Homo sapiens: one gene and its partner. The protein of the gene in region 1 interacts with the protein of each later gene in a pairwise test. Each region holds a gene or a part of one and is shown on either strand. Other genes may lie near its edges.

The links.
Region 2: the proteins of LRATD1 (region 1) and ARHGEF5 interact in binary tests that used the Homo sapiens proteins (3 or more experiments, as listed by UniProt).

What each region holds. Positions count from the first base shown.
Region 1 is NC_000002.12:14,625,274-14,641,530, reverse strand, and holds LRATD1 (protein LRATD1), read right to left. Parts: upstream 8,815-16,257; 5' UTR 8,594-8,814; intron 7,946-8,593; exon of another isoform or gene 7,703-7,945; intron 7,588-7,702; 5' UTR 7,552-7,587; coding exon 6,673-7,551; 3' UTR 1,490-6,672; downstream 1-1,489. UniProt on the Homo sapiens protein: May play a role in cell morphology and motility.
Region 2 is NC_000007.14:144,362,362-144,378,424, forward strand, and holds part of ARHGEF5 (rho guanine nucleotide exchange factor 5), read left to right. Parts: intron 1-296; 5' UTR 297-308; coding exon 309-3,462; intron 3,463-3,993; coding exon 3,994-4,051; intron 4,052-4,484; coding exon 4,485-4,549; intron 4,550-4,740; coding exon 4,741-4,994; intron 4,995-8,799; coding exon 8,800-8,960; intron 8,961-9,515; coding exon 9,516-9,668; intron 9,669-9,937; coding exon 9,938-10,067; intron 10,068-10,321; coding exon 10,322-10,396; intron 10,397-10,833; coding exon 10,834-10,923; intron 10,924-12,370; coding exon 12,371-12,528; intron 12,529-13,152; coding exon 13,153-13,314; intron 13,315-14,758; coding exon 14,759-14,829; intron 14,830-16,063. UniProt on the Homo sapiens protein: Guanine nucleotide exchange factor which activates Rho GTPases. Strongly activates RHOA. Also strongly activates RHOB, weakly activates RHOC and RHOG and shows no effect on RHOD, RHOV, RHOQ or RAC1.

The DNA of each region.
Region 1 (16,257 bases):
GCTATAGAAATAGCCAGGTGTAAAGTGACAATCCAGATTGGGATAAATAGGTGGGATAAAAAACAGTAGTATACAGTATTCCTGACTATACCTAGGAAAGTATTCGTCATATCCCCAGGTAAAGGATGGTGTCTGTTATAAAATAGAATCAAGAGAGTACAAGAAACACCTACCCACCCGCACCTACACATACACACAACCAACTCTCTCTCAACGACCATGGGGGCTGTGAACTCTTCTGAGGCTTCTCCTGCACTATGTGCTCATTCCTGGGACTGAATTTGACTCTGGCCTTAAAAGACACATGGAAAATCTCACAGGACCTCAATGTTGTGGGTAGGGGGTGTGTCCTTAGTTCGCCAGCTCCAAAAAGTCAGGGGGCTCTATTGCTTCTTAGAGTTGATAAAATTATCCTTGAGAAGGGTTGACAGATAATATACTGGACATGCACTTACATTTGAATTTCAGATAAACAGATAAGTTTTAGTACAAACAACCTAAATATTGCAGGGAACATATTTATCCTAAAACTATAATCCTAAAATCAACAATAATTTATCTGAAATTCAAATGTAACTGAGCATCCTGTATTTTTATTTGCTAAATCTGGTAATCCTACCTCTGAGCCTTGCCTCCCTCTAGCTCAGACCCCCTGGGCAGACACTTGCACTGAGAAGTGAAAGGTGGGAAGAAATAAAGTGCGTGTGCTGTTGGGAGTTGAGAGATGTTTTACAAAGTCATCATGGGTATGATCTCCCTAGATCTGCTCACCCCCTTGCAGAATCTGAAATCTACAGTGGACTTGGAAGTGAGCAAAGAGCTGGTATGTCACAGGGCTGTCACAGGGAAAATAACTGAATTTAGAATAATAACTTATTTGCTAAAGTAAATGTCAGTGTACTTATAATAAAGAAGCTCTCAAATAGAACATTAATGTCTGTATCACCCATTGATGGCAAGAATTTCCTTAGGATACATATAAGCAATAGCCTTATATGATCTTTTTCAATTTTTTGAAACATTAAATGATGCTCAAAGTAACTTTTGAAGCATTCATTTTGTGCTTGAAATTTAGGACACTGACTCTATTCATACCTAGTATTTCATAAGTATCTATCCTTTGGACAAAATAAAGTTCAGAACTCATGTTCATATTAAGAACTGGATTATAAAAGCCAAGAGGCATAGCAATTATTTTAATATATAAATGAGTAATGTGTATTTAGAAAAACACCCATGACCAAACTCCATCAAATCTAATTTTCCCAGAGTTAAGTGTACATCTAGTAAATCTATTCCCATATACCAAAGAAAATTTTTAGCAAGAGCTACAATAAGCTTCCTTCTGAAGGAATAATCTTGTGATTTCATGCGAGAAAAATCTCTCCTTGAGGTGAATGAGAGATGAAGTTGTGAAAGTTACAGTTGGAACTATTTTGCTTTTCCCTTCGCTTTTCCCTTTCTGACCAAATGACAAGAGAACATTTTCTACTTTTCCTGGATTCTTTTATTGTTTTCTCTGCTAAAAGCAAATCAAATATTACAAATACCCTTCAACTCAAATTAGCCTTAAGCCCCATAAGTTATATTTCCAAGAGCCTTTTGTGGTGGAAAGAACCTGCCAATTTTGGTTAGAGAAATTTCTTTAGGCTCGCCTTTGCAGGCAAGGCAAGTGACGGGCTTTCTGGTTTTCCTGGTAACCAAGAATCAGTGAGAAGCACTTGTACTAGACAGCTGCCATAGTCTTACATTTATGGAGTACCTACTGTGTGCTTTCTACTATCAGCCATCAAAAAGAATGATAAAAGTCCACAGCATAGGAATCTGTTCATCTGAGTGTTCTGCCAAAAAATACAGTAATTACAAGTAGTGTCACCATCAGTGACAAGGGCAGGGAAGACTATTTTTCCTTTTTTTCCCAACTTATTCAAATACTTAAACCTCTTCTATTTCGAGTTCAAATGAGGTAAACATACAACCTCAAAGGTAAACTTTGAGTTATGAAATAATGGGATTTTATGAATTACTAAATGATTGAAAGATAGGATCTTAGCTTCTCTTTAGTGTCTTCAGTTAGAAGGGAGAACAGGTGTCCCCTGTTGAAAAGTTTATTAGCTCATTATATGATCTCATAGCCTCCCCACTTTATCTTGCTTCTTATTTTTCAGTTACTTCCTAATATTTACAACTTTCCTTTGAATTTTTTCCTTTTAGTTAGAGAAACCAGGAACATATTCTTCCAAAAAATGAGAATAAAACTAATTGCACAACTCCCACATTTTCTTTTTATTGTTAGCTTTAGACATAGCTGCTTGCTGTGCAGTTATACATTAGCTATATGACCTCCAGGGCTTTTCTTCCTGTTTTTGTATATCTCAAGTCACTCTCTATTTTAAGTAGCCTGTGTGTGTGTGTGTGTGTGTGTGTATCTGAATGAAATAATTGCTAGCTATAGGCAAAAATGTATGTGTACACAAGTATATATACATGTGTATATATGTATATGAGTGTATACTTACATATGTGTAAATGTACATATGTGTGTATGTATATGTATACATGTACATATATGTATATTATACCAATAGCTAGTAATTTCAAAAAAAACATTGACTTGAGTGTTAGATAACCATTCTCTAAATTCAGTTTTTGATGTTTCAAGAAACCCAAAAGCCTGTCTTTTCACCTACAGACCCTTTGTGCACGTGGCAAATCACCTCTGAAAGGCAAAAACTAACTGGATTCTCTTCATTTGTTCAAAAAAGAGAAGAAAGCTTTAAAGATATGCCTATAAATAAAAGAAAATTAGGTTGCTATATTATGATTGTGCAATAAGTATTAATTTCATTGAAGTTTGACCCTGTTCCATGTATTAGATGACTAAGACATTTAACTCTTAGGGATGTTGAAAGCGCACCACAAAACATAAGTAATCAATAAAGTAATGTTTGAAGACTTTTAGTATATACTGCTTATTCAGGTAATTAATTATTTTGTAAATACTAATAGCATATTTTTCCAAGAAAAATAAAAAAGCCATGTTCTAACAAAAGTGTTCACCACAGAAAAATTAAACATAGGGGAAGGTAAACATTAAAGTTTCAAAAAAACAGGTAAATCATACAGCTGCTTCTGTGCTTGATGTTCTAATCTGGCACAAGTGTTTCGTAACTATAATATACGTTATTATTTTTAAAAAATACTGTCATGACAACAGCTTACATTATTAAATATTGAGGAACACTTTATATCAATTTAACTCATACTTAAAAATGTAACATACGTAAATTCTATAGTTTTTTTTTTTTTTTTTTTTTGGAATGTACTTTGAGAATAACAGCATTTCAGGACTGGTTTTGTTTAAAGTATACCCAGCCCCCCTCCTTATTTTATTTGATTTTTGGTTTAAATAAAAATGTAGCAAAGCACTCTTTGAAGTAAAAGTACCTGTCTTTTCTTTTTTCTTTTTTTAAATCATAGTTTGTTTTACCTGAAAGTTGAGAAAGAATGCAGTATAAATATAGCTTTTCTCTACACGGGAGCAGGGGGAACAGAACCAATCCCCAGCTTAGCCACACCCAACATCATGGAAATTACTGTGAACCTGTTGTCTCTTGAGGACAACTAAAACCAAAACGAAATCCCTAACATTATTAAAATGTTAGGAAACTTTTCAGGTAATTGCTGTAACTCTGGTAAAATACAGAAAGATTACATTCACTCATAATAAAAATCAAGTGTGCCCACGCCATCTGCAAAGGGAACTTGCACCATCTTGGTTTCACTCGCATTGTTAACAGTGCCCTAAAAGTATACACCTTTTTCAGGATAAAACCATTAGGTAATATCTTGATCATATCCTCTGCATGATGAACTATCACTCAAATTATTCTGTCATGGGTTACCTTACTAACACTGACAAAGAGATAATAAATGATAATTTTAACAGGGATAGGAGAAACCTTGCAAACCTTTCAAGTTTCTTTCATAACTATTGTTTTATTATTGCATATTTTTAGAGGTATTATCATCAACCTGATCCTTTATAGGCCAATATAGTAACAAATGCTAATTTAACTGCCCAGCTCATTTTTATTGTCAGTCTAGCCTCAGCAAGTATAAAACTGACAAGACATTCCTCTATGAGAGTGACCCTCTTAGTGAGAGAGAAATCTATGTACCATCAGAGGAAATAAATCTTAGTATTCGGTGTGATAGAGACTAATTCATTTCTTTTGATGAAGTCCCACTCTTTGAGTGACTTTGAAGGGGGAGACAAAATGTCAAGAAGGAGTCCTGCAGGAACAAGTGCTTAAGATGGTGTTTAATACAGCAGGGAGCCAAGATACAGTAGTAGGACACAGTAAAGAATGTGGAGTGTGTAGATACAATAAAGAATTCATTTTATGATCTGCCACCTGTTACTTGAAAGAGGAGTAAGTTAGGGAAATAAATGACTCAGTTCTTCATACATGCAAAGGTAAGTTAGTTATTACAAAAGTTTTTGCTGTTGTTTGTGCTGAAAGAAAAGCATATGCATTTAAACATTTTTTAAAAAATAAATCACTCAATAGGCTTAAGAAAAATACTTTAGTTCATAGTTCATTGATCTGACGTTTTGATTTAAGATCAGGGGATGAATCCAGGATGAAAACCAAAGAAAAAAAAAGAAAAAGAAAGAAAAATATAGAAGTGAATCATTTACCATGAAAAAGGCATTTCCAGCCTCAGCTAACCTCAACTAGTTTTTATTGCATTATTTTTGAAATGCCAAGAAACTGGCTTTGGCCATAATACTTGCTGTCCAACAAAATCACAGCTGTTAATATGCAATTGCTTGCAACAATTAGCTAAACAGCATTATTTGACAAATTCCCTTGAAAGAGACATAGATGCTATTTAAGTGTCTAGCACACTGAATCAAGTAACTATCAGTTAGGCTGGGGCCGCAGCTGGAGGGAGGAGAGAAGTTTACAAATCCTTGTCCACAGAAGGTGTTTCACACCCAGCCTTAAGTTTTTGAAAAACACACATTTGTCCTGATCCTACAAGTTCATCATCCCTGTTTTCAGGAAGAACTGAACTGTGGAACTGGCCAAAGAGGAGGGGGAAAAAGCCACCAACTCTAGATTCATTTTTAAGGAGATCAGGAGGAGAGGAAGAAAAATAGAAACGCGTATGTGAAATGGTAATGATATACAACATGGAGAAAAAAATAAACATCGTGGAACCTGCTAGCAATTTCCACCAATTTCCACCAAAGCAGTGAACCCCTTAACTGACAGAAATTCAGTACAATATACACATTAATTAACAACTCCACCATTACTAGGGCTGCTGTTGAAAGCCAAAAAATTAACTACAATATTGAAAAACAGAATGCTTACAATATCTGAGAAAAATAGAGTGAAAAGGCAATGTTAGCTAAGCTCTTAGCTACATCCACTCTTAATGGCCCCCAGTATTTAAACTATCATGGATTAAAGCCATGAAAATAAAAATTTCAATTTGAAATTTTATTAGCCTGTTGCTAAAATGGTCAATAAAAACATCAACACGATAGGCTTTGTTGACATAGTTGGAAAACTGCTCTCTCATTTTTAAAACTTTATTTCCACTTCCCCAGCTTTGAAGATTTCTATGTTAGGAAAAGCCAAACTAAATATACTGGCTATGGTGTTGTAACAATGCTGGTTTCTGGAATGGTGCCATGTCCTCCCCCTCCCTCTCCTCCAACTCCTTTAAAAATATGACTATTTTTGAAATGCAGCCCGAGGAGGGAGCAATCAAGGGTTCAGAACAATAAGCGCCCTTCACACATTCAAGTTCCCAGACACCAGGTGAACGAGCGAGCTCCTTGTCGGGGGCGGGGCCGGCTGTCCTCACCGAATTCGCAGCGCCATCTTCCTCCCGGGACCGGGCCGGCTTCCCTTCTGCCAGCGAGGGAGACTCGCAGGCAAAGGCGGGTGGGGGTGGCGTTCGCTTCCCACGGTGGAAAGAACCGGAGGCAAACACTGTCTGGCTTAGCCCGCAGCCTGGAACACAATGTCAGGAGACCTGGGGCTGGAGAGCTGGAAAAGTCCCGGGCAGCCTCAGGATAACCCGGAATCCCGAAGTGCTGTCTTGGGGAATTATTCCCAAGTGCACAAGGGACAGGCTCGATTTCTTGGAAATCCTGCGATCTGGGGACGCATCCACAGAGGAGCTGAACTGTGCCCTGTAGAGACCAGTTCTCGCCTCCGACCGGTCTGTGTGCGCACGCTCGGGGCGGTGATGGTCCCTTTTGAGAAGAGGGTTGTTTTCGAGTCGGGCCACAGTCACTGGCCATGGACTCGCGGGGAAGGCCATGTCCTTTCTCCCCTCAGCCCCTTCCCCGTTCCCGGTTTACATCTCAAGGGGAAAGCGCACGCGGGGTCTCCCAGCACCGTCACCACCGCTGTGGCTGTCAGCCAGGCGCTCGCAGCGGCGCCCTTTCGGCCCTGGGGCAGTTCCTGAGACTTCCTGCCGCTGGCTTGGGGATGCGGGGGTGCAGCCCGGGCCCGGGCCACCGGCGGCGGACGCGCGTGGCGGGGCGGGGCAGAGGTTGAGAACCGCTGACTGCGAAGTCCGGGTGCGGGGAAGGGAAGGGAGCGAGGTGCGGGGGAGGCAGAGGGGCCGGCAGCCCCTAGGCGGCTACTCCTTGTCGTCCACGAGGTCGGCGAGCTCCTGGAGCACTCGCAGGCGGCCGCTGGCGTCGATACGGCGCTTCTCGCGGATGAGGTCTTCCAGGCTGTGAAACCTGGCGGTGTGGACCTTGTTCTCTCCCAGGTGCACCTTGAGATAGTACTGCTGCTGCGGGGGCTGCGTGCCTGCCGGCACCTCCCCTCCCGCCTTGAACTCCCGCTTGCCAAAGCGGCACCAGGCGGCGAAGCTCTCCGAGTTCGTCCAGCAGATCTCCTCGCTCTTGAGGCCCAGGTGGCCGCAGGCGTTCTGCACCACCAGCTCGGCCACCAGCGGGCGGTAGCGGTACCAGCTATTCACCACCCGGCCCACGTTGGCCGCGCCCGCCTCATACAGGCTGTCCTGGCGGATCTCGCCTTGGTGCAGGTGGATGATCTGCCCGCCGCCCACGTAGACGGCCCAGTGCGGGGCGGGCGCGGGCGGCTCCGGCGCGGGCTGCAGCCACAGCAGCTCCAGCAGGTCGCCGGGTTCGCAGAGCGCTGGCAGCGCGGTGACCGCGTAGACGCTTAGGTCGGCGCCCTGAGGGCCACCGCTCACTTTGGAAAAGATGCATTCCTGGCCCCGAAAGGCGGAAAACTGAGTCTCGTTGAGGACCAGCTGGTGCAGCAGGTGGTGGTGGTGGCGGCTGGGGCTCTCCGGGCAGGGGGTGCAACCCGGGGGGGCCTTCACGCCAAACTTGTCGGGCTGCCCGCGTTCGTCCAGGTCTTCCTCATCATCCGAGAAGAAGTAGGCAACCCCGACCCGCAGTTCGTCCTTTTCAATCCCCGACGGGTCCCCTGTGGGCAACTCGCTGTAGTTGAGGTGGGTGATGCGGTCCAGTTGGTTGCCCATCAATGAGGTGGCGAGGCGAGGGCCAGGAGCGGGGATCTGCGGAGGCACAGAGAGGCAGAGACACCGTCAGAGTCCGGGCTGCCCCTTTCGGTGTCCCTCCCCAAGACGTGCAGTGCCCCTGGGACCTGCCGGCTAGCTTACGTGCCCTCACCGGAGTCACCCTTTCCAGCCGAGTCCTCCGTGCCTCCCCAGGGGTACGAGGGGCGGAGAAGCCGCCACAGGTCAGGCGAGAGCAGACGCCACCACACAGCCTCCGACCCCTTCCGGGAACTCGGTCCAACTCCCAGAAGAAAACACCCAGGCTGGCTGGAGAGCTTGCGGGGTCCCGGTGGGGAGGAGAGTGCTGGCTGTGGCAGTGTGGGAGACGGACACCCAGGAAGGACCGAGGGGTGGGCTGAAAGGGAGAAGGGAGCCTAAGGCCAGTGAGCTGGGAGCAAGCTCCCATTTCTGTCCCCACCCTCTCCAGCCCACCTCCCAGTTTTGCACTAGGTTGCCTTCCTCCCCTTACAGCGGCTCGCACAATGACAATCAGACACATTCTCAGGCATTCACTTGACACCAGCAACATTTTGGACACTTGGGAGTCCAGACACTGGCAGCCTGGTATACTGGTGTATGTCACATACACCCACAATGACAAACCTTCGCGACGACACACTGGCACACTTAGACCCCACACATTCGTACACAATTTCAGCTCCACGCTTGCACGCTCGCCGTTGCACGTACGCCCAAGCACCCGGGCACACCTGCCCTCACAGGCAGGTGCACTCTGCCCCTTACTTCTCTTGCCTTGTCCCCATCAGGGCCAATGGGACTGCGCCAGGGCGAGGCTGCTCTGTCTAAAATAACCTAACAAAGAGGCAGGGGAAGGATGGAGAAAGCCAGTGCAGTGTATGTGTGTGGGTGTGGGTGGGAGCGTGTGTGTGTAGAGAGGTTCACTTTTAGCCCAAAGACCCCTCTCCCTCCTACCCAGCACAGGATCCAAACAATCGGATGAAGAAAAACCGTTTCCAAGGCAAAGAAAGCCGCTTCTCCCTACCCGTGATTTCCCTGCTCCCGAAACCCCAAACTCCTTTAAAGTCTCCTGGTCCCCATGGGTGCTGAGGAAGCGGCGGTGGCGAGTGGGTCCTGGGCTGCGCGTGGGGCTGCGGCTCCGCTCTACCCCGAGCCGAATCGTGCGGTGCGGCGCCCGTGCGCCTCCAGGTCTGCGCTGGCCGGGGCGCCTGCTCCCACTGGACAGTCCCGGCTCGGCTCTGCTTTCCCACCGCCGCGCCGACGACTCTAAGTAGCCGGAGCAGCCGGTCCCAGGGCCCGCCCCAGGACGCGCTCATTGGTTGGGGCGGGTGCTCGAGCTGTGTCAATCTTCGCCGGCGGGGGAGGGGAGCAGAGGCGGGCCTCCTGTGCGCTTTGCTCTGCTCCGCTCCGCCCCGCCCCGTACCCCGCACACCCGACCGCGCGCCGCCCCGGGGAGCGGAGGTGTGCGCACCCGCGGGGGGCGCGGCGCTTTCTGCCAGGTGCCGATGCCCGCTTGCGCCCGCGCCCCCCAGCTCATCCGAGCTGATTGTGACTGAGAACACAGCCCGCCCGCGTTCCGTGTTCCAGGAAGACAGACTCCAGCGGGGAAGCTGAGTCTGGGTATGGAGAAGAAACCCCAGGGCACCCCAGTATGGCCCAGGCACTGCGAGCGGCCCGGGGCAGGCAGCGACATTGCCCGAGGCGGGCGTCTGGGCCCTGCTGGGATCCCCCAGAGCCTTGGTTCCCGATGGCCCCTAGGCTGGTCCTTGGATCGAAGACCCTTTTCGTTCCCCAGACGTCTTTGAAATTGCTCCTGCGACGTTTGGCTCCTCTTCTTTGACTGGAGTGAGGCTGCTGACCCAGAGCTGATGCCCGATTTAAAAGGAGCTTGGTGTCAAATGCCACCCAAAAGCCTGAGCTTTGGCCGGTGCATTCCCTGGCTGTGCCTATGATATTGGCCTCCAATTTTCTGAATATAGGAGGAGTACCTCACAACTCATGTATGTGAGTTCATACATGCAAGCAGAGAGTAGGATGTAAAAGTGTTTTCCAAGCCTCAGAATTGGGATTGCTAAGCAAGTTTTGTTTGGTTTTGTGGGAAAGGAGGCTCCAGCAGTAGTTAATGATTACATTTCTGGATGGAAAGTTAATGAATGAATGTGTTCTGAATATTGGATGCTGAAAAAATGAACTTCATATATACAACATTCCAGACCAATAGTTTCAAAAGTTCCTAACATTAAGCCTCAAAGAGTTCTTAGACATCTGGTTCTGGCCCCAATGCTACTCATCTTTAAGCCTGGGCTCCAGCAGCTTTTCTATGAAGCCTCTTTTCTTTCCCAATGAGGAATTTGATACTTCCTATTTGAACCCCCCACCTCTTCCCTACAAAGCGAATTCCTTGAGAATAGACTTTGCATTCTGCACAACCTTGTATTCTGGGCCTCTTTCCCAATGCTAGTCATGCAGTGTGTTCCATCAGTAATAGTAAAAATGAAAACAGCCTGTATTGACCACTTATACGTGGTCAGACACTTAAGAGTAAATTAAGTAGACAATTTAATCATTATTCCTCTGTAGGGTACTCACTAATATCCGAATTGTAACAAACAGGGAAACAAAAGCTCCAATACTAGTACCAGCAATCCATCCAAGCCTACGGGATACCAGATCCAGTCTTTCACTAAGTTATAGTGTTTATTGAATAAAATCTTGTTTCATAAAATGAGAAAACTGGTGTTTCAGAGAAGTTAGATGATTGGCTCAAGGTTACATGGAGACTGATCCATATTACAACCCCCTTTTTCTTTGCTAGACTTTTCTGCTTGAATATCTTCAAACCGCCAAGCCTCCAGTTTATGTTTGCTTTCTGAAGGTCTCTGTACACCCCCACAGCCTCCAAATGCAGTGATTTATCAAATTAGATGCTAAAATATTGCTGGAAAAAATGGTTTTAAATGACCATCGGTATACAATTGATGTACCTAAATCTTTTTGGAAATTTGGCTATTGTCCATGTGCATGCAAGTTATCAGAAAACAAGTTGCCATTCGTGGAACTGACCACAGGTTGAGATGGCCTTTTTTATACTTGCCATAAGTAATAAACAACTCATTTTGGCCCTGAAGTCAAGAGAATTGAACAAGTAGCTTTAGAGATAAGGAGTGAGTTATTGGTCTTGTTATAAACTGGACTTCAGGGCTGTCTGGGATGAGGGTATCTGAAGAGTTCATTGTTGATGTCTGAGAAGAACTCTTTGAAAGCAACTCAGCGTTTGAATAACTTAAAAAATATCCTCCCTCCATCCCCAAGATCAAGCCTTGTGCACAGACATTTACAACTCATTTGTTGTGTTCTGCCCTACGTGTTCTATTTCATTCTGCTCCAGACTACAGAGTAAGCAGGTCGTTCCTCTTTGTTTAGTATTCCAATACTATAAAGCATAATTAAGATAAAATGTTGTCAGTTATTGGAGATATAGTGCCTAAAGTTTAAAATTTTTGGCCTCTCCGTTTCCTCTCATTCCCCCTGCTAGGCTAAACGGCTAACTGCTTTTGTAATCACATGGGAGAAAAAATACCCTGGAGCCCCCTTGAAACATAAGGCAGGGAACACATTGACTGTGAGGCTTGAAATAAAGGGAGCTAAAAGTAAACTAAGGAAAATACATCTACACTTTGTCTTCTTTTGGCACTTACCAGATAATAAAGTAAGACAATCAAATGAAGGATGCTGATTGTAGAAAATGTTTTATGTTCATCACAAAATATTGTTTTCAAATTGTTTTGACTTTTATTTTTTACTCCATCCTGCCTGCTTTTACAATGAGAAAATACAGTGCTGTCCAAAGTAGAATATAGTTGTCCAAAACACAAACTCTGAAAGCCAACTAATTTAAACTCTTTTTCAACATTTATTGCTGGGTAACCTCGAGTCCGTTATTTAAACTTTGTGGGCATCAGGAAACTTCCTTATCTGTAAAAAAGAGATAATAATAGTGGTTACCTCACTGAATTGTTGTGAGTTCATACATGTAAGCATAGTGTCTGACGCACAGTGAGTTTTCAATCAAGGCTATCTTATTATTATTCTTGGTGGAAGAGAGAGGTCTCATACCCTACTTGTTTAGGACAGCTGTGCAGTTCTCTTTCTCCTTTGCCCCAGGCTAAAGGTAGCAATAGATAGTGTCCAAGGCTTTCCCTGATTGGGGTGTAGGACTGCTTCTGTGTTAAGGTGGTGAGATCCCTGCCTATCCTTCAAATACTCTGAGACCTAAAGCTCTCTATAGATTTCAGCATGTGAGCCCCTGGGCTGATCATGTGGTAGCAGGGAGTGGGGTGGGGGTTCCCTGAAGGATTTTTAATTGTTTTAAATGAACATTTCCGGTGTGAGGAATTTGTGTGGGGAAAAAAGTTACAGGGGAGTGATTAGGAGTCAATCAAATGTATGTGATCTTTTCTGCTGGTGCCATCTGATGTATCCTCTCTCTCTCTTTTTTTTTTTTTGTTTTTGGTTGCTTCTTTGGCACTATTTGAAAAGCTTTACTCCAAATTTTACTGAACAGGTCCTTGGCTCAAACTGTCATCCTTTAAAATTGGCCTTGGAGCTTGGAGTAAGGGTTCAGGAAAATTATATGCCCCACTTTATCCTTTAATGAAATGAACTGTTCCATCTCCTGTCCTTCACTGCCTTAGGCAGTTAACATACTCACCCTGGTCTGAGCTAAAGAATACTCTGTGTCCATCTGGATTAGAGATGGTTATATGGCTTCACCAATCCCATTTCCCTTCCTTCTGGGCACCCAGCTAAATGACAAGTCCCAGCATGCCTGCAGTCATTTGCCCCATGCCCTGTGACTGAGTTCTGGCAAATGGAATGTGGGTGGAAGTAGAATAAGCCACTCCCAGGTGCCGCTCCTGAAAGCTCCTGAAACTGAAACTATTATTAACACAATCTTCCAGAGCTTTCTTTTGCCAATTTGGCCATTTGTAGAGGATTCATGGTAGGACTCCTAGGATCTAAGAGATGGAGGAGCCACTAGATGGAAGAAGGCCGGAGCTCCTGAATGACTGTGTAGAGCTGATAATTTCCCCTCCCAAGAAAACTGCATTGGACTGTGAAGAAATAAATCTTCTTGGGTTAAGCCACTCCAAAATTGTGTGGTTATTTATTATAGCAGTTAGCCTGTACTGACTGATATACTGTCCTTCATTTTAGACCTATCTCAGAACAATAAAAATCTCCCCCACTTCCCCCGTCCCCACACACACCTCCTACCTCCTTCTCTCTTTGTATCTGTTCTCACTGCCAAGGCTAACTTGCCTGAAATCCCTGCAGCATTTCAGCAGGTTCACATCACCTAGAATGTAAAGAAATCACTAATGAACACTTCTCTCCCCTCTAGGTACTACCCCATATCTCCCTACTATTTGTTCTAGAAATTTTCACAGCTTCCATGTGACTAACTTACCCAGCTCTCTGAACATCTTACCTGCTTTCTACTTTTGTAGACCACAACAATGGCGTGGGAAACCCCTCCCAGTAAACTTCTTGCAGCTGGTATCCTGCTTCCCTTAACCCGCATGCATGCATTGACACTCTGGCTATCAATTTCCTCTTCAGTGCCCATTTCCAAGTTTGGCTTCCACATTTCCATGTTCTCTAATTTCCTTCCCATAACTGAGTGTTCATATTAAAGTGTCTTTTGTGGCTTCTTATCAGCGAACCATTAAAGACTCATGAATGCTCCCTGGGTAAAACCTTTAGCACTAATTGGTTTAATATTTTATTTTTTTGTGGATTATACAAAGATATCTTCACCTAGCATTCATTTTTCTCTGTGTTCTCTCCCAATTTTAGGATAGTTCATGCCTTTTGTTTGGGCCCACTTCCCCATATGAGTGATGGTTGAACTTTCCTGGGTAGGCATGGGTCACTATTACAGACACACTGCTTACTCTTCTTTTTCTCTGGAATGTCTTTCCCTGCCTGTCTGATCTAACCTCCACTCAAAATTAATAACCCAGGTTATCAAGCGTCAGCCCCTCCAATATATCTGTCCCCTCAGCCCACTCTAATTGAGACCCTCCTTTATGCTTCCATAGCACCATCTGTATATTGGACACAAGATATGTCAGAAATTTGTCAAAACACTTATCAAATTGAGCTGGCATCATGGGTTGACGTTCCTCTTTTTCCTTATTAATAGACTAAAGAATATTTGAAGAAAAGTCCAAAATCGAATTCAAGTCCATATTCTCTTTGCCAAGTATAGGGTTTGGTGCAATGTGCACTCAATAAATACACCTTGCCTGACTCAAGGCGCACGTGAATAATGGTCTCTGTTTTAGTTAGTGAGGTGTCGGTATTTGTGTTTGTTTCAGCTTTCTCTAATTTGAACGCTTCAATACCCTACACATGTATTAAATTAGACAATGTGTGGGAAGGTGTGCTATGTGATGTATAGTGTTGGGTTTCCAAATGGTCCTCTAGCATCATCAGGGAACCTGATAAAAATGCAGATTCCCAGGCTCTATTCCCAAGCTACTGAAACTTAATCTTAGGATTGGCTCTAGGAAATTTGCATTTTGAACAGTCTTTCCAGGCATTTTGGATGCTGTGTAGTAATTACAAGTCAAATGCTACTCAAATGTAACAAAAAAAATATTCTTCTTAAGTACAGGGACAGCCCTTGAGGAGTAGGCACTTAATAAATACTTGGAATTTCATTCTCTAGACATCCTCTGGTTCATTTCAACAGCAGTGAGACTCATTTTAGACTTGCTCATACGAAGCTGGTAAATAAAGGTATCAGTTTGCATTGTGAAGTCAAGTGGCTTGTTTAAAAGTCATATTGCAGGTGCATGGTAGAGCTGAGGCTTTATCTTTTTTTCTCCTTGCTCAAACTCCGTGCCCCCGCCCACTGTGCTCATAGGCTGTGGTTAGAGCAGAAACCTGCATAAACAGGAAAACTTTCTGTTCCTAGGTATCAAATTCCCTTTTAGGCTACTGATTGACTGATTATGAAAATCTTGGTTCTGTCTCTGCAAAGAGTAACTTTTATGCTCTTTGTGTTGCATCTGGATTGCCCTTCTGTTAGTGCCTTTGCTGGCCCCATCCTGGCAAAGACAAGTACATCAACCTGGGCTCTGAATGCCACCTGTTTGTGCCCTCTCAAGGACCTCACAATTTTAATAAAACCCCTCTCTCCACCTTCGTATATAACCCCACCTATTCTCCTAACTGCTTCCCAGTTGCATGGAGTCATATTTGTCTCTCACATCGTAAAAACATCTCCTAACTGTACCTCTCCCTTGAGATACTCTCCCATCTTGCAGTTTATCCCAATCCACCACAGGCTGTCTTGTGCAACCATCGCTCCATCACTGAGCAGCTCTCACCAAGGGGAACAGTGATCTCATCAGCATTGAATGTGATGGATGTTTTTGGGTTCTTACCTTACTTCTGAGAAGCATGTGCACAGATGACAACTTCTTCCTTGTTGAGCTAGGCTCTTCCTTTCCTTCCATTGTACTACATTCACTCTCCTGGTTTCCTTCAACCTCTCTGGCTATTCATCTTACAACATTTTGTGGACTGATTTCCTTTAACTTCTTTCAATAGTGGTTTTCTTCAGGACTTCTTCTGTTTCCACGTTCTCTTCTCAATGCATCCTCATTGACTGGCTTTTGGAAAAGTCATATTGAAGGTGATCTTGTCTGCTTCTTTGGCTTTCATCCCATGTCTATCTGATAACTCCCTAATGGAACTATAGACCCAAACATCTAACTGCCTAGAAGACACATCCTTGTGGCAGTTCCACAGACATGGAAAGGCCAGGATGTACCAAGCTCTGAGCACTTCTTTTGCTTTTCTTTTTGTCTTTCATTTTGCTGATAGGCACTGTTACCGTCCCAGTTTTGCAAGCCAGTGCCTGGGCATTATCTATCACTTTTCCCTTACCCCGGGCTACATATGGCCATGTCCAACTCCTGTTACGTCTCCCTCATGCATATTCTTTCTCATCTGTCCCCTTTAGTCCCTTCCTACAGCTCACCTTAGTCCCAGGCACCAGGCACTCCCATCTACGTTGCTGCAGTTGGCTACGAATTATTCCCCCAACCCCAACATTGTTGTTCCCCGTGGTCATCTCCCTGTACTGTATACAGAGTGATTTCTAAAATGTACATTTTTTAGGTCACTTCCCTGCTTGAAACTCTCAGTAACTCTCTGTTGCCCTCAGGAAAATATTGAACAACCATATGGCAGATTCATGATCTTGCCCTTGTTTACTGCTCCACCTTATCTTTTGCTACCTGCCCTCTTGCTTCTTGCTTCAGCCTTTCTGATTAAGCTTGTTTGTATGTTTGTTTGTTTGTTTGTTTGTTTTTGAGGCAGAGTCTTGCTCTGTCGCCCAGGCTGGAGAGCAGTGGTGTGACCTCGGCTCACTGCAACCTCCACCTCCCAGGTTCCAGCAATTCTCTTGCCTCAGCCTCTGGAGTAGCTGGGATTACAGGCGCCCATCACCACTCCTGGTTAATTTTTGTATTTTTAGTAGAGACAGGGTTTCACCATGTTGGCCAGGCAAGACATGAACTCCTGACCTCAAGTGATCTGCCTGCCTCAGCCTCCCAAAGTGCTGGGATTATAGGCGTGAGCCATCCTGCCTGGCCTATTTGTTTGTTTTTA
Region 2 (16,063 bases), on another chromosome or scaffold:
TGTTCATTATGACCTGTTTCCCTCACAAGACCACAGTCTCCATGACGACAAGATCTTTATCTCATTCACTACTGAATGCCCCACACTTAACAGGGTCGCTAGGAAAATATTTATGAAATAAATACATCAATGACAAGTTTTTTAGAGGCTATTGCTTATTTTGTTGAGAACCTGTTGTCTCAAAGAATGACCCTAAATGGAACCAAATAAATGCATCACTCTTCTTTTTTATGGTCTCTTCCTCTGATAGGTAAAAGCAGAGTTGTTAGAAACATTTGTCTTTGATTCCTCCTTAGGATTCAGCCCTGATGGAGGCTGAGGAGGCCCAGCGTGGAGCCTCTCCTCCCATCTCTGCCATAGAGGAATTCAGCATTATCCCTGAGGCTCCCATGAGGAGCAGCCAGGTCTCTGCCTTGGGGCTTGAAGCTCAAGAAGATGAGGACCCATCCTATAAGTGGAGAGAGGAACACAGACTCTCAGCAACTCAGCAGAGTGAGTTAAGGGATGTGTGTGACTATGCGATTGAGACGATGCCCTCTTTTCCCAAGGAAGGTTCTGCAGATGTGGAGCCCAATCAGGAAAGCCTTGTGGCTGAGGCCTGTGACACTCCGGAACACTGGGAGGCAGTACCCCAGAGCCTAGCAGGCCGACAAGCAAGGACTCTAGCTCCCCCAGAGCTCTGGGCCTGCCCCATTCAGAGTGAGCATCTAGACATGGCCCCATTTTCCAGTGACCTGGGAAGCGAAGAAGAGGAGGTGGAATTTTGGCCAGGACTTACTTCTTTGACATTGGGATCTGGACAGGCAGAAGAAGAAGAGGAAACCTCTTCAGATAACTCTGGTCAGACCAGATATTATTCTCCCTGCGAAGAGCATCCTGCAGAGACCAACCAGAATGAAGGCTCTGAAAGTGGGACTATCAGGCAGGGGGAAGAGCTGCCACCTGAGGAGCTGCAGGAAAGTCAAGGGCTCTTGCATCCCCAGGAGGTCCAAGTTCTGGAGGAGCAGGGACAGCAGGAAGCAGGATTTCGGGGGGAAGGAACTCTGAGGGAGGATGTTTGTGCCGATGGGCTATTAGGGGAGGAACAGATGATAGAGCAGGTTAATGATGAAAAGGGAGAACAGAAGCAAAAACAGGAACAGGTACAAGATGTGATGCTTGGGAGACAAGGAGAAAGAATGGGGCTCACTGGGGAGCCAGAGGGTCTGAATGACGGTGAGTGGGAGCAGGAGGATATGGAGAGGAAGGCTCAGGGTCAGGGAGGTCCAGAACAGGGAGAAGAGAGGAAGAGGGAGCTGCAGGTGCCAGAAGAGAATAGGGCGGACTCTCAGGACGAAAAGAGTCAAACCTTTTTGGGAAAATCAGAGGAAGTAACTGGAAAGCAAGAAGATCATGGTATAAAGGAGAAAGGGGTGCCAGTCAGCGGGCAGGAGGCGAAAGAGCCAGAGAGTTGGGATGGGGGCAGGCTGGGGGCAGTGGGAAGAGCGAGGAGCAGGGAAGAGGAGAATGAGCATCATGGGCCTTCAATGCCCGCTCTGATAGCCCCTGAGGACTCTCCTCACTGTGACCTGTTTCCAGGTGCCTCATATCTCATGACTCAGATTCCCGGGACTCAGACAGAGTCCAGGGCTGAGGAACTGTCCCCCGCAGCTCTGTCTCCCTCGCTAGAGCCCATCAGGTGCTCTCACCAGCCCATTTCTCTACTGGGCTCCTTTTTGACTGAGGAGTCACCTGACAAGGAAATAGATCAAAACAGCCAGCAAGAGGAATCCAGGCTGAGGAAGGGAACAGTGTCCAGCCAAGGGACTGAGGTGGTCTTTGCCAGTGCATCTGTGACTCCTCCAAGGACACCAGATTCAGCTCCTCCCAGTCCTGCTGAAGCCTACCCCATCACACCTGCCTCGGTATCTGCCAGGCCCCCAGTTGCCTTTCCCAGGAGGGAAACCTCTTGTGCTGCACGTGCTCCAGAAACTGCCAGTGCCCCTCTCTCAATGGATGACCCATCTCCCTGTGGGACTTCTGAGATGTGCCCGGCTGCCCTCTATGGCTTCCCCTCCACCGGGACCAGCCCTCCGAGGCCCCCAGCCAACTCCACAGGCACCGTCCAGCACTTACGGAGTGACTCCTTCCCTGGTTCTCACAGGACAGAGCAGACTCCAGACCTGGTGGGAATGTTGCTTTCCTACTCCCACTCAGAGCTGCCCCAGAGGCCCCCCAAACCTGCCATCTACAGCTCTGTGACCCCAAGAAGGGACAGAAGGAGTGGTAGGGACTACAGCACCGTTTCAGCATCCCCTACTGCCTTATCCACGCTGAAGCAGGACTCTCAAGAATCCATCTCAAATCTAGAGAGACCCAGCAGTCCTCCCAGCATCCAGCCCTGGGTCTCCCCACATAATCCAGCCTTTGCCACAGAGTCTCCCGCCTACGGTTCTTCCCCATCCTTTGTCTCCATGGAGGATGTGAGGATCCACGAACCTCTGCCCCCTCCTCCCCCACAGAGGAGGGACACCCATCCCTCCGTGGTGGAGACAGATGGCCATGCTCGTGTAGTGGTTCCCACGCTGAAGCAGCATAGCCACCCTCCTCCATTGGCCCTAGGTTCAGGGCTGCATGCCCCCCATAAAGGCCCACTTCCCCAAGCCTCTGACCCCGCTGTGGCCAGGCAGCACCGACCTCTGCCATCTACCCCAGACAGCTCCCACCATGCTCAGGCCACCCCCAGGTGGAGATACAACAAGCCGCTACCCCCTACCCCTGATTTGCCGCAGCCCCACCTTCCTCCCATTTCTGCTCCTGGTAGCTCAAGGATCTACAGGCCTCTACCCCCACTACCCATCATAGACCCTCCCACCGAACCACCCCCATTGCCCCCAAAGTCCAGGGGGAGGAGCAGGAGCACTCGGGGAGGACATATGAACTCAGGGGGTCATGCCAAAACAAGACCTGCTTGTCAAGACTGGACAGTCCCCCTCCCTGCCTCTGCTGGACGCACCTCCTGGCCCCCGGCCACAGCTAGATCAACAGAGTCTTTCACTTCCACCAGCAGGAGTAAGAGCGAAGTGTCCCCTGGCATGGCTTTCAGCAACATGACAAACTTCCTATGCCCCTCTTCCCCTACCACTCCCTGGACTCCGGAGCTCCAGGGACCCACCTCTAAGGATGAAGCAGGGGTCTCAGAACACCCTGAGGCCCCTGCGAGAGAACCTTTGAGAAGGACAACCCCTCAGCAAGGAGCCAGTGGCCCAGGGAGGTCACCTGTGGGCCAAGCAAGGCAGCCAGAAAAACCCAGCCATCTGCACCTGGAGAAGGCGTCCAGCTGGCCCCACAGGCGGGACTCAGGGAGGCCACCAGGGGACAGCAGTGGACAGGCTGTGGCTCCTAGTGAGGGGGCCAACAAGCACAAGGGCTGGAGCCGGCAGGGCCTGCGCAGACCTTCCATCTTGCCTGAGGGCTCTTCAGGTGAGCAAGAACCGGGACCACAGTGACACATCAGACCAAGCTTTTCCCAGCTCTTCCCACCTCATCCCATCTTCTGTCCCTAGGGTTCCTAACATTCTCTCTGCTGGCTTCGCTCACATGTGTGCCTAACCTCAACACAGAGAGAGCCCCGAAGTGCCCTCCAAGCTCCTTGGGATGCTCTTCCTTCTTCTTCCCCTCTATCTCCCTGTCTCTCCCTCAACCAGCACCTTCTTTGGATGTCCCAAGGTTATTTTGGACTCCCTTCTACTCTTCAGTTACAGTCCCTGCTTGCTCTCCTCCTGGGGAGTAGAAAAGGCCTTCTGTACTTGTCCCAGTCCCATCCTGACCCGTGGCTCGGGACGTCACTGGTACTGATCTCTTTCACGCTCTCTGCTTTGCCACTTTCTTCCCTCCCAGTTTCCCAATAAAGCCCATTTTCCCTTCTGGACCCCTGCATCTCCTGCTCTAGATCTTCTTTGGCTCTCTCTATCCCTCTGAAATCTCAGTTATCTTCCCCATTTCCACTTTTAGATTCAAGAGGTCCAGCCGTGGAGAAACATCCGGGACCCTCAGACACTGTTGTTTTTCGGTAAGTCACCCTCTCCCCTAACAGCCACACTGTACTCTCTTCACTTGGGATACTGAGAGTCCCCTAGTGAGGATTTCAGTTGATAAGGGTTCTGAGACCCCGAATGGCTCATTCCTGTTTCTTCTTGGTGTAAGGAGGAGAAGAGAGAGATGCCGGGATGCCAGCTTAGGGAGATTGTCTTTATCTACCTCATTCGGTCAGCCGAGCCTACGAGTCATCCATCTTCCCAAGCCCTATGGCTGTGAACTAAACCCCACAAAAGCTCCATGTTAGCCCAAGTGGGTCAAGTTGCAACTCTGTGCCTCTCCGGGGGATTTGGTCTTGACATCCCAGCACACATCCCAGAGGCTAGAGACTTTGTCCCCCACAGTCACCTGGGGTGCTCTGTGTCTAATGGCCAGTAGGTACCCCAGAGCCCTTCTTTACTCCACAGGGAGAAAAAACCAAAGGAGGTGATGGGAGGCTTTTCAAGACGCTGCTCCAAACTCATCAACTCCTGTGAGTACCTTGAAGTGGAACTATAGAACCAGGTGGGCATTCTGCCCAGCACTGGAGAGGGGCTTGTGGATGTCAGCAGTGGGGTGGGGATGTCCCTAGCGAGAAGGCATTGCAGAAGATCTGTTTCCCTGCCTCCGCTCACCGTCCCTTCTTCCTGCTTCTCTTCCTTCCCATGCTTCTTTGCCCTGCAGCCCAGCTGCTTTACCAGGAGTATAGTGATGTTGTCCTGAATAAGGAGATCCAGAGCCAGCAGCGGCTGGAGAGCCTGTCCGAGACACCCGGGCCTAGCTCTCCGCGGCAGCCTCGGAAGGCCCTGGTCTCCTCCGAGTCGTACCTGCAGCGGCTCTCCATGGCCTCCAGCGGCTCCCTCTGGCAGGAAATCCCCGTGGTGCGCAACAGCACCGTGCTGCTCTCCATGACCCATGAAGACCAAAAGCTGCAAGAGGTACTGGGCAGGCCACGGTGGGGAGGGGGCTACAGAAAAGATGACAAGGTCTTGTTTGCTAGCATCCTTCTCTCCTGCTCACCACTGCCACCAAGAGTCGGCTGTCCCCACCACACAGGCGCGTGTACATGCCACAGCTGTGGGTCATGTCCATTCTGAAGAAGTTGAATTGTTTTCTGGATTTCACCACCTCCCCTTTCATCCTCACCTCCTCATGCCATAGGCCACTTGCTCCTACCTGATGTTGGTCTGGGCTATACATGGTGGCCATTGCCTCTGAATTTGTGTGGAGGAATGTGGAGTTAATCCCATCATCACTGCTGTTTCAGGGTAGAGGAAAGCTTCCCTGTTCAACCAGGGTTTCAGGCTACACTACAGTTTTCCTCTTTAGCCAAGGCACATTCCGGGGCTCTTTGTTGGGTCCCTTGAAGAGGGCCCTTTGCAGCTGTCCTGTGGTCCATCAATCTAACAGGGGCCTTAGAGTGATCATCAGTCCCTGCTTGATTGTTACTCCCAACAGCAAGACTGAACTAGAGGCTGTTTGTCTGATTCTAAGCTATTACCATTAGTAAGTTTTACATGGAGAGCGCCTCTTATTAATTTGTCTGAAATATGGGGTAAAACCTTTCTTCCCAGAAAGACAGTATGGAACAATGGAATAGAATAATGTTTAAGAAATTAGGTTCTGGAAGAAATGACCTGGATATGAAAACCACTTTTTTTTAAAATTATTAATTTATTAGAGACAGGGTCTTGCTCTGTCACTCAGGCTGGAGTACAGTGGTACAATCATTGTTCACTGCAGCCTCAACCTCCTGGGCTCGAGCAATCCTCCCGCCTCAGCCTCCCAAGTAGCTAGGACTACAGGTATGTGCCACTATGCCTAGCTAATTTTTTAATTTTTTGAAAAGATGGTGTCTCACTATGTTGCCCAGTTGTCTCGAGCTCCTGGGCTGAAGCAATACTCCCGCCTCGGCCTCCCAAAGTGCTGGAATTACAGGCATGAGCCACTGAGCCCAGCCCCAGAGCCCACTTTAATATTTCCAATTTACCTTTGGCCAAATGACATTTGTAAAACTGAGATACAAACAGTTACTGCAAGGATCAAGAAACATGAATGCCTGGTACATAGTAATTTCTCAAAAAATGTTGACTTTTCATTTTAAGTAAGCCAGACCTAGGTTTGAAACATGACTTCACCATTTGCTAGCTTAGGCAGCCTTATAACATCACTAAATCTCAGTTTCCTCACTTGCAAATTGAGGATAATAATGCCTACCTTTCAGGGTTGCTGAATGGTTTAAATGAAATAATGCATATCTAATTTAGCAGTAATATTTGATGTATAGTTTGATAAATATTAGTGCCGTACTCTCTGCCTTTCAGAGGCAGGGAGGAGTAAAATTTGGGCCAGGAGGACTTATGGACAGACAATGCTTTTACCAAGTCAGAGAGAGAATACATTTTTAGACTTTGCAAAGTTCAGACTTGAGAGCCCTGTTGTGGCTGCAAATTTTTAAGCACAGAGAAGATATTTAGAAAATAACTCATCTTCCCCATATTTGTTGACCAAACAGTGGGAGATGACACGAGTTCTAGCTCTCTTTTACCAACTCCAGCATGCTGGGAAGTCCAGCAGGACTCCTATTCCAGCCCTGGTCTCATGTTTGTGAGAAGAAAGGGCTTTACATTTCTATCTCTTAAACACACATATTCATTTTATAAAGTAGTACCTCTGGGGTTCACAAAGTGCTTTCACAGGCTCCATTTCTTTCAACTGTTGCATCTTCCACAGTGAGATGGGGGTCACTATATCCACATAAAAGGACACGAAAAGTGAGATTCAGAGAGGTTAAATGAGCCACCCAAAGTCAGTCGTGTAGTGAATGTTAGAGCAAGGATGCAAATGAGCCTTCAGTGTCCCTGTTCAGGGTTGTTGTATGGGAGGGTCATCTGGCTGTGTCATTGGTCATCCAAGTCATCACCAGGGTGTGTCTCCTTTCTCTTTTCTATCCAGGCATCTCTCTTGAGGCCACATGCTTGGATGAAAAGCATGAGGAGCCCAGCTAGAGGCACGGTCATGAGTCATAGCGCCCCCTGCTGGAACCTCCAGACAAGTTCTCACATGCTGGGCATGCATTAAACCACAGCTGCGCCATCTTGTTCTCAGATATCCTGCTTCTGTCTCCTGCTTCTCGCGCCATCTTGTTCTCAGATATCCGGCTTCTGTCTCCTGCTTCTCATCTGTCCTCAAACCTCAAACTGAGCTCATCACCTTCATCCCCTAAATCTATGCCTTTTCAAAGTTCTCTGGCTCAGTAAATGACTCCATCATTCACCCAGGTGCCCGACTCAAAAAGCTTTTGCTGTGAGTACAAAACATTAGCTTTGAACCTTCCTTCTCTTTGAGGCCCCATTTCTAGCAAATAATCCAACCCTTCCAATTCTACCTCATAAATAATTATAAAATTAATCTACTTCTCTTCAGCTCCATGGCTATTCAGACCTTCATCTCTCATGTGGAATTATTACAACAGTTTCTTAACATGGATGGCTTTTGCTTCTTTTCATCTTTTCTTCTCATTCTGCTTAGAAATAACTTTATGAAAAACAGGCTGGGCGCAGCGGCTCACACCTGTAATCCCAGCACTTTGGGAAGCCGAGGCGGGTGGATCAACTGAGGTCAGGAGCTTGAGAACAGCCTGGCCAGTATGGTGAAACCCTGTCTCTACTAAAAATACAAAAATTAGCTGGGCGTGGTGGTGCATGCCTGTCATCCCAGCTACTCAGGAGGCTGAGGCAGGAAAATGGCTTGAACCTGGGATGCGGAGGTTGCAGTGGGCTGAGATCGTGCCACTGCACTCCAGCCTGGGTGACAGAGCAAGACTCCATCTCAATTCCAAAAAATAAAAAAAAATAACTTTATATAAAACAAATGTGGTCAAGTTATTCTCCTATGTAAAGCCTGTTTTCATTGTCCCATTGTCTTAAGTCCAAACAATTTTACATTGTTTACATTACCCTTCAGGCCTCCTCGACTGCTGCAGCTTCATCTCTGGCCACTACTGCTGTACACTTGGTTCAAAAAATGCTCAATTTATTTAGTTTAGTTAGTTTGTTTGTTTGTTTTGAGATGGGGTTTCACTCTGTCACCAGGCTGAAGTGCAGTGGTGCAATCTGGGATCACTGCAACCTCACCTCCCAGGCACAAGCAATCCTTCCGCCTCAGCCTCTCAAATAGCTGGGACTACATGTGCACGCCATCACATCCGGCTAATTTTTGTATTTTTTGTAGAGACAGGGTCTCTCTACGTCGCCCAGCCTGGTCCTGAACTCCCAGACTCAAGTGATGCACCCACCTCAGCCTCCCAAAGTGTTGGGATTACAGGCGTGAGCCACTGCACCCAGTCTATTTAGCTTTTTTAATATAAATTTCATTGTGTATATTAAAGATATACAACATGATGTTATGGGCTACATATAAATAGTAACAGAATTACCCTAGTGAAGCAAATTAACATATCCATCTCACTTTGTTACTCATTTTTTGTTCTTGTTTTTGTTATTTAGATTTCTTGAAAGCATATTTTTCTTTTATACCTTTGAAGGCCTGTACCTGTACCCTAGATTAAATCCTACTCAAATGCTCTTCCCCTCCCCGCAGATCAACTTAGGTTCTGGTGTGACTGTGAACCATAAAAGGATCTTGCTCACTGCTCTATCCCCAAAACATTACACAGTGGCTGGCATATTCCAGGGGGTAAATAAAATCCTTAATTAATCTTCCTCATCTCCAACCTCCTAGGTCAAATTTGAGCTGATTGTGTCAGAGGCCTCCTACCTGCGCAGTCTAAACATAGCTGTGGATCATTTCCAACTTTCAACTTCACTCCGGGCCACACTTTCCAACCAGGAGCACCAATGGCTCTTCTCTCGTTTACAGGATGTGCGAGACGTCAGCGCCACGTGAGACTCCCCTTCTCCTAAATACCACTCACTCAGCCTCACTGTTGTTAGGCTTTAAATGTTCCGTTATTTTTTTCCCCTCTTAGAAACCCTTTCATTTTCACAGTTATGGGAAGAAATTGGGCCTCAGTTTCTTCCATGATTCCCGATGGTTATAGGAAGAAGAATGGCAAGAAGAGGAGAGGGTCTGTGGGTGGATAGATCCATTAATGGATAAGTAAATGAGCAATGCTTCCTGGGTTGAGGTTTTGGATTACTGTGGTCATGCACTGCATTGGAGATGAGGTGGAAAAACCATCTAAAGATCAGAAAACCTGAACAGGGTCAAAAGAAGAATGAGAAATGGAATATTAGAATAAAAGTGTTAAATCAGGCTCAAACTCAGGACAGTTTTGGAGCGAATTCTAGTGCATAGCAAGGAGCACAGAGCAGAGAGTCAATAGAAGTTATTGGCTAATGGAGTGAAGAAGTCACCAGCTCAGTGTACACCAGGGGCCAGTCAGCTGTTTAGCTGAGGTCCAGAAGTCTCATGAGACTCGTTTAAATCCTGTACAGGTTCCTTTCAGACCTGGAAGAGAACTTTGAGAACAATATCTTCTCCTTCCAAGTATGTGACGTAGTCCTGAACCACGCCCCAGACTTCCGCCGGGTCTACCTGCCTTATGTCACCAACCAGACCTATCAGGAACGCACCTTCCAGAGCCTGATGTGAGACTCATCCCCCATTTAATCCCCATGTAGGCCCTGAGGTGACCATGCACCAGTCCCCAGCCCAGAGGGCTATCCCAAGAGCACACTTTCCCCATTCCGCCCTCTGTATTGGTTACCCCAGCATCACATCTGAGCGCCCTGTACATCAGCTCCCACCGCTCTTTCCCAGCCCACAGATACTCCACTGACCTCCCTTCCCCGCACCTTCACTGCATCCCCCATTGCTCCCCATATCCCCCCTCCCCTAAGGCTCACTCTCCGTGCAGGAATAGCAACAGCAATTTCCGGGAGGTCTTGGAGAAGCTGGAGAGCGACCCCGTCTGCCAGCGCCTTTCCCTCAAGTCCTTTCTGATTCTGCCCTTCCAACGCATCACCCGCCTCAAACTGCTGCTCCAGGTAGGGCAGATGCTACCTTGATCCTCTCCCCTTAACTCAAAGGGATGCCCTCAGGAAGACCCACAACAAAGGACCAACCATTCTTCTGCCAGGTGTCCACATCCTGTCTCCCTGCTGCCCACTGCCTGCTTGCTTGGAAATATTTGCTGCTAAAATGTGGTCCCTGGGCTTCTCCATTCACCAGCCCCCAATCATTTCTTCCTGTTTCCCATTTCTTCCTCCCATCTCACTCCTGCCTACTGTCTGTTCAATAGAACATTCTGAAGAGAACACAGCCTGGCTCCTCGGAGGAGGCAGAGGCCACGAAGGCACACCACGCCCTGGAGCAGGTAGGCAGCCACCACCTCCACTCTGACCCTCTGTGTGTTCTTCTCAGAGAGGTCTTTCCCACCTAGGCCCATGACTCCAGGGAGCATGGGAGGTGGGACCCTGTTGGGAGAGCTCAGCCACCTCCCTGCATCCGCCAAACTTCCAAACATACACACCCCACGGCCACCTCTCCCACGCCGAGCACACTCCACATCAAGGGACTGTGCCCTCTCCACCATCACCCCCCCATTCAGTCTCACTTTTACTCAGTTCAGGAATGTTCTGCCAAGTCATACAAAGTTGCCTAGGACTTGTGCTTGATACTGCCTGCCCAATTCCAGCCTGGGAAAAATGACTGAGGCTGTCATAACCTATTTCCAGATTGCTTGCAAGGGACTCAAAGGTCAAAGCCTCTAACACAGTGCCCTTCCCCTTTCCTCACTCTCTGCACCCCTAGCTGATCCGGGACTGCAATAACAATGTCCAGAGTATGCGACGGACAGAGGAACTAATCTACCTGAGCCAGAAGATTGAGTTTGAGTGCAAAGTGAGTCGGTCCCATGCACCCCATCCCTGCCCATGAACTCCCTTAACATGTCCTGCAGATCACCCCCTAACCTGGAACCACCTTGCTCACATTATCCCCAGCCCCTCCCCTCATTTCTGCCCACCTTCTATTCTGTCCTATTTCTGGGAGGCCTACTTGGGTCTCCAAGACATACTGCTAAGTGAAATGATGAAGGTAAAGAATTGTGTGTATATTATATCACCTTTGGTATAAAAGTGGGAGGATACAAATCTATACAGGTGTCTGCTTGTGTGTGCATAAGGAAACTCTGGAAGGAGAACAAGAAAAAAAGGAACAGTGGTTACCTGAGGACAAGGGGGGTGCATTTGAGAAATGGGCAAATGAGAGAGAACTTTTCAGGATGAGCCTTTATAAAAGAATGTTTTGGTGCTTGATTCATTTATTACTTTATCAAATCTCTTTCTAGTCTAATCAAACCCACATAAGATTGGATCCAAATTTAGAGCCAGCATCCCTCATTGAAATACAAATCTAAAATAGACATTCCACATTCAAATTCCAACTTAGAACAGATACTATCTTTTTTTTTTTTTTGACAGAGTCTCACTCTGTCGCCCCAGGCTAGAGTGCAGTGGTGCGATCTTGGCTCACTGCAACCTCCACCTCCCAGGTTCAAGCGATTCTCATGCCTTGGCCTCCCGAGTAGCTGGGATTCCAGGTCTGCACCACCATGTCTGGCTAATTTTAGTATTTTTAGTAGAGATGGGGTTTCACCATGTTGGCCAAGCTGATCTCCAACTCGTAGCCTCAAGTGATCCACCCACCTCTGCCTTCCAAAGTGCTGGGATTATAGGCGTGAGCCACCACGCTCGTGCTTAGAACACATACTATCTTTACACTCCTGAAAAAGAAGGAAAATCCCTTATTCACATACTAAGCATAGACCACACCCTCATCTTTAACCAAATTCCAGCTCCAAGACGCCCCACCTAGTTCTTCTCACCCCCATGTTTGATTCCAGCTGCTCACATATCTCTGGTATAAAAAATGGAATTGATACCAGACCTGCCTCTAATATTTTATTTTAACCTCTAAGACACATATAGTGTTCACTGACTTGTTCCATCACATACCCTGATTGGACTCTTCCATCCCTCCTTCAGTTCAGGCTTCTAGGGCAGAGCTGTCCCACACACTCACTATCCTGAGTTGGACCATAGGCATCTTCTATTTACCTGAGCATACAACCATGGGAGCCACACACCAGTGGACAGTGGTAGTTAGAGGGTTCAGAGAGAAAGAGAATCTAAGTGATGGGTTATGAGCCAGAAGGCAGATGTGGAAGAGATGCTTGTTCAAGTGGAACTTGCATGGAAGTGGCATGGGGAGGAGGGTGGGACTGGGAGCAAACCTCATGCTTCTCCCATCTGTGACACTGCCTTCTCTCTCTTCCTCTGCCCTGTAGATATTCCCGCTCATTTCTCAGTCACGCTGGCTGGTGAAAAGTGGGGAGCTGACAGCCTTGGAGTTCAGTGCTTCCCCAGGGCTACGAAGGAAGCTGAACACGCGTCCAGTCCACCTGCACCTCTTCAATGACTGTCTGCTGCTGTCTCGGCCCCGAGAGTCAGTGACTGGAGTGGCAGGCCAGGGCACAAGAGGGGAAGGGGATGAGGAAAGAGGGGGGTCTGAAAGGGAGAGAGAAGGGTCATGTTCCTAGAAGAGCCCTTCTCAATGGCTTAACCCATAGAGCCCAGGTCATAGCCTAGAGAAGAGAAAAACAAGCCCAAAGCAAAAAGGGGATCCCATCAAACTGTATCATGAGACCACATAGCAGGACATGTAATATGGTATAGACACAGAGCAAAATGTAGCAAATTAGCTTATCACATTCTCACATGAGTCTATTTGTGGCTTCTTTGGACTGGCCTCAACCTGCTATTCTAGAGATACTTAGCTAATTCCAGAGCTTAAGTCTCTGGTCTTAAGGTTCTTGGGAAATGTATATAAATTCCATCTCTTCACCTCTTTAAAGTGGTAATGTATCCACTGCACTAGGTGTGTGGTTTGCCAGACTAGGACAAATCCCTGAGGACCCTGGAGCTACCATCTTGGGAGCAAGTTAGGACCATCTTATGGTTTTTGTGGGAATTTGCAGGCTGTAGATGTAGGGATTTCGAACCCAAGGTTATGAGGGTAGGTGAAGTATGGAAACTCTAGAATCAGGTTGAAAAGATTTGTATTTTGCAGGGGTAGCCGATTCCTGGTATTTGACCATGCTCCCTTCTCCTCCATTCGGGGGGAAAAGTGTGAAATGAAGCTACATGGACCTCACAAAAACCTGTTCCGACTCTTTCTGCGGCAGAACACTCAGGGCGCCCAGGCCGAGTTCCTCTTCCGCACGGAGACTCAGTGAGATGGGGCTGGGCAGAGGAGCTGGGGGTGGGGGAAGATGGGCAGCCGAGAAAAGAAGTGAGACCAAGGCAGAAAATGTGTCCAGAAGACAGCCACAGCCTCATTTAGCCCATTCTGGACTGGGGACCACCATAGAGAAATTCAGACTCCTAAAACTAATGGATAACTTGCAGGAGATTGGGGTGGGAGAGGGTACAAAGTCACCACCGAGGCTTAGCATCTATTTTATACTCTTTACTCAAGAGGGACAAGGTCTGTGTAGTATCAGAAAGGAGAAGGACTGGTATGGAGTGAGCAAGGAATTGGAATACTGGTATCTGTGAGCACATGCCTCCATGCCTGAGGCAGAAACCCTTCTATGCCCCAGCTGGTGGGCACAGATGTGAATAAGACAAGTGCTGGGTGACTTTTACTTTCTGTGCTCCCATCTTCCAAACCAGTCCTCTATTGACCAGAAATCCATAGTGTTGAGAATGCTGATTTGCTCATGTTTTCAATAATAATAAAATAAAATACATTCACACAGACATACATTTTTGAGAGTATTAATAGTACCTATAAAATCTGGAACACAGTGCCTGCAATAATGAACATGTAAAAGCCTGTAGCTGTTATTGCTATTATAAAAGATATATGAACAGTCATTTAAAAGTTTGACGTATCTAAGTGTTTGAGGATCCCTATGTTGTAGACACTTTTTCAGTTTTGTCCCTTGGAAGATACTTCAGAGTGGGACCGATAACACCTGTTCTCATTTATTGAACAGAAGGACTAGTATCGGAGTTTGTGTGCAAAACAGCACATAAGTCAAATAATCAGGTGCAGATGCATGTTGTTGGTTTGGTGCTTTGGGCACTGTGCCTGGAACAGTAATAGTCCATTCCCAGTTACCTAGGCACAACTGGGCACAGAGGCTAACAGAATGCAGAAACCTTCAGATGATTACAAACCTAAGCTTGGATTACACCGTGCAACAACAACAAATAAAACAGTAGACATATCTCCCTGATCTAATTATTATTATGAAACAATGATCATCTCTGAGATAGTTAGTTGAAGGGAGATAGGCAAGCGAGTGTCAAGAATCATGCCAAATGATGGAGGGAATCTAAACTGAAATGAACACTTCGCTTAGCACAATTTCCAAAACAGAAAATCTCCAGACTTTATGACTAATGAACATTACGCCCCAACTTGGAAGATATGAGAAGCCATTAGGAGGATAATTCTGGAAAGAGAAGAGGAAAAGTAAAGTGTGACAAGACACATTCACATATAGTTCAAGATTGTGTCATGTTTCCAACCAAAAAGAGTCCTATATAGTGTTTGATAGAAGTCATGGAACTAGATAAGTCCTTCCCACAGTCTTTTGCCATCCCCATCCTTGGCCCTCCTCCTACACCCCCACAATTGATGCTATGACCCTGCTTTGTTTTCTCAGAAGTGAAAAGCTTCGGTGGATCTCAGCCTTGGCCATGCCAAGAGAGGAGTTGGACCTTCTGGAGTGTTACAGTGAGTGAGGGTCTAAGAGGGAGAGAAAAGAAAGCAGGGTCAGATGTCACCTTTGGATACAGGAGTTTAAAGGGCTGGGTGGGAACTCTAGGCTTTCATTTATTGATATTCCGTAAAATGTCAGGGTGGAAGATTGGCCTCTAGAGCTTAAAAACCTGAAATATATCGCCTAAAACTGCTCATCACTATGGCAGTCCCCCTTCCCCATACATTCCCTTCCTTGGGCAATAGTTTGCTCTTTTTAAAAATATTTGTCCCCTTAAGTCTAAGCTGACATTATTTTGCCTAGATTTTACCTGCTTGAAGGTCTTGTTGGGGTAGGGGAAGAAAGCCTGACGGTGGTAGAAGGTGTGCAGGAGGATAGCACCCCAGATCTATCTTGACCACACCTAAGAGGATGACCTGAGGTCACCTACCCCAGGCTTCTGGGTGCCCATGGGGAGCCACAGGCACACACACATTATGTATGTGTCTGTGTTCACACCAAGACTGGACTTCTTATGCCTCTCATGTCAGCCCCACAGTTGTCCTCCAGCAAAGATTCCCTAATTTAAATCCAGAGAGAATCTGACCTCAACCCTGGACCTTTAGTGACTGAAAAGAACAAACAACTACAAGGAACCCTGGGAATGAAGTAGGAGAGCCGTGTAGTAACTGAACGCTGTTAACTTGCTCACTGTGCACTCCATCTGCTGGCTTCAGTTCCCCAGTGGGTGAGGAGGGCAGGAGCATTCTTCCTCCTTCATTTTGACCTTGTGAATGGCAGATGGGGAGGATCTTGAGAAAGCAAATAGTAATGCAGTATTCCATTTATTTTACAAGAGAATCAAGGCAGTGTAGTAACAAAAAAGAGCCATAAACCCACATATGATGGAATACTGATAGGTGAAGCATTCTCTGAGGCTTGTTTTCTTGAGCTTCAGATCTATGGACATGTCTCCTGGTTCTCAAAAACATAGAAATAGAGAAATCTTGAATGTCCTCAAGATTCATCTGATCAACCTTGATCAATAACCATCTTGATCACTGATAGATGAGTAAACTGAAGCTCCAGGGCTTTCAGTCTCTGGCTTAGGTCAAACCTGGGACACCACTAGTTAAGTCTTTCTTGGTTCCACATCTGGTACTGGGAAGAAAATGAAGAATAAGACACAGACTCAGATTTTATAATCCAGTTGGAGAGGCAAAACACGTCCATGTAGCAGTTAAATAAGGGATAAATGCCTTGGCATGA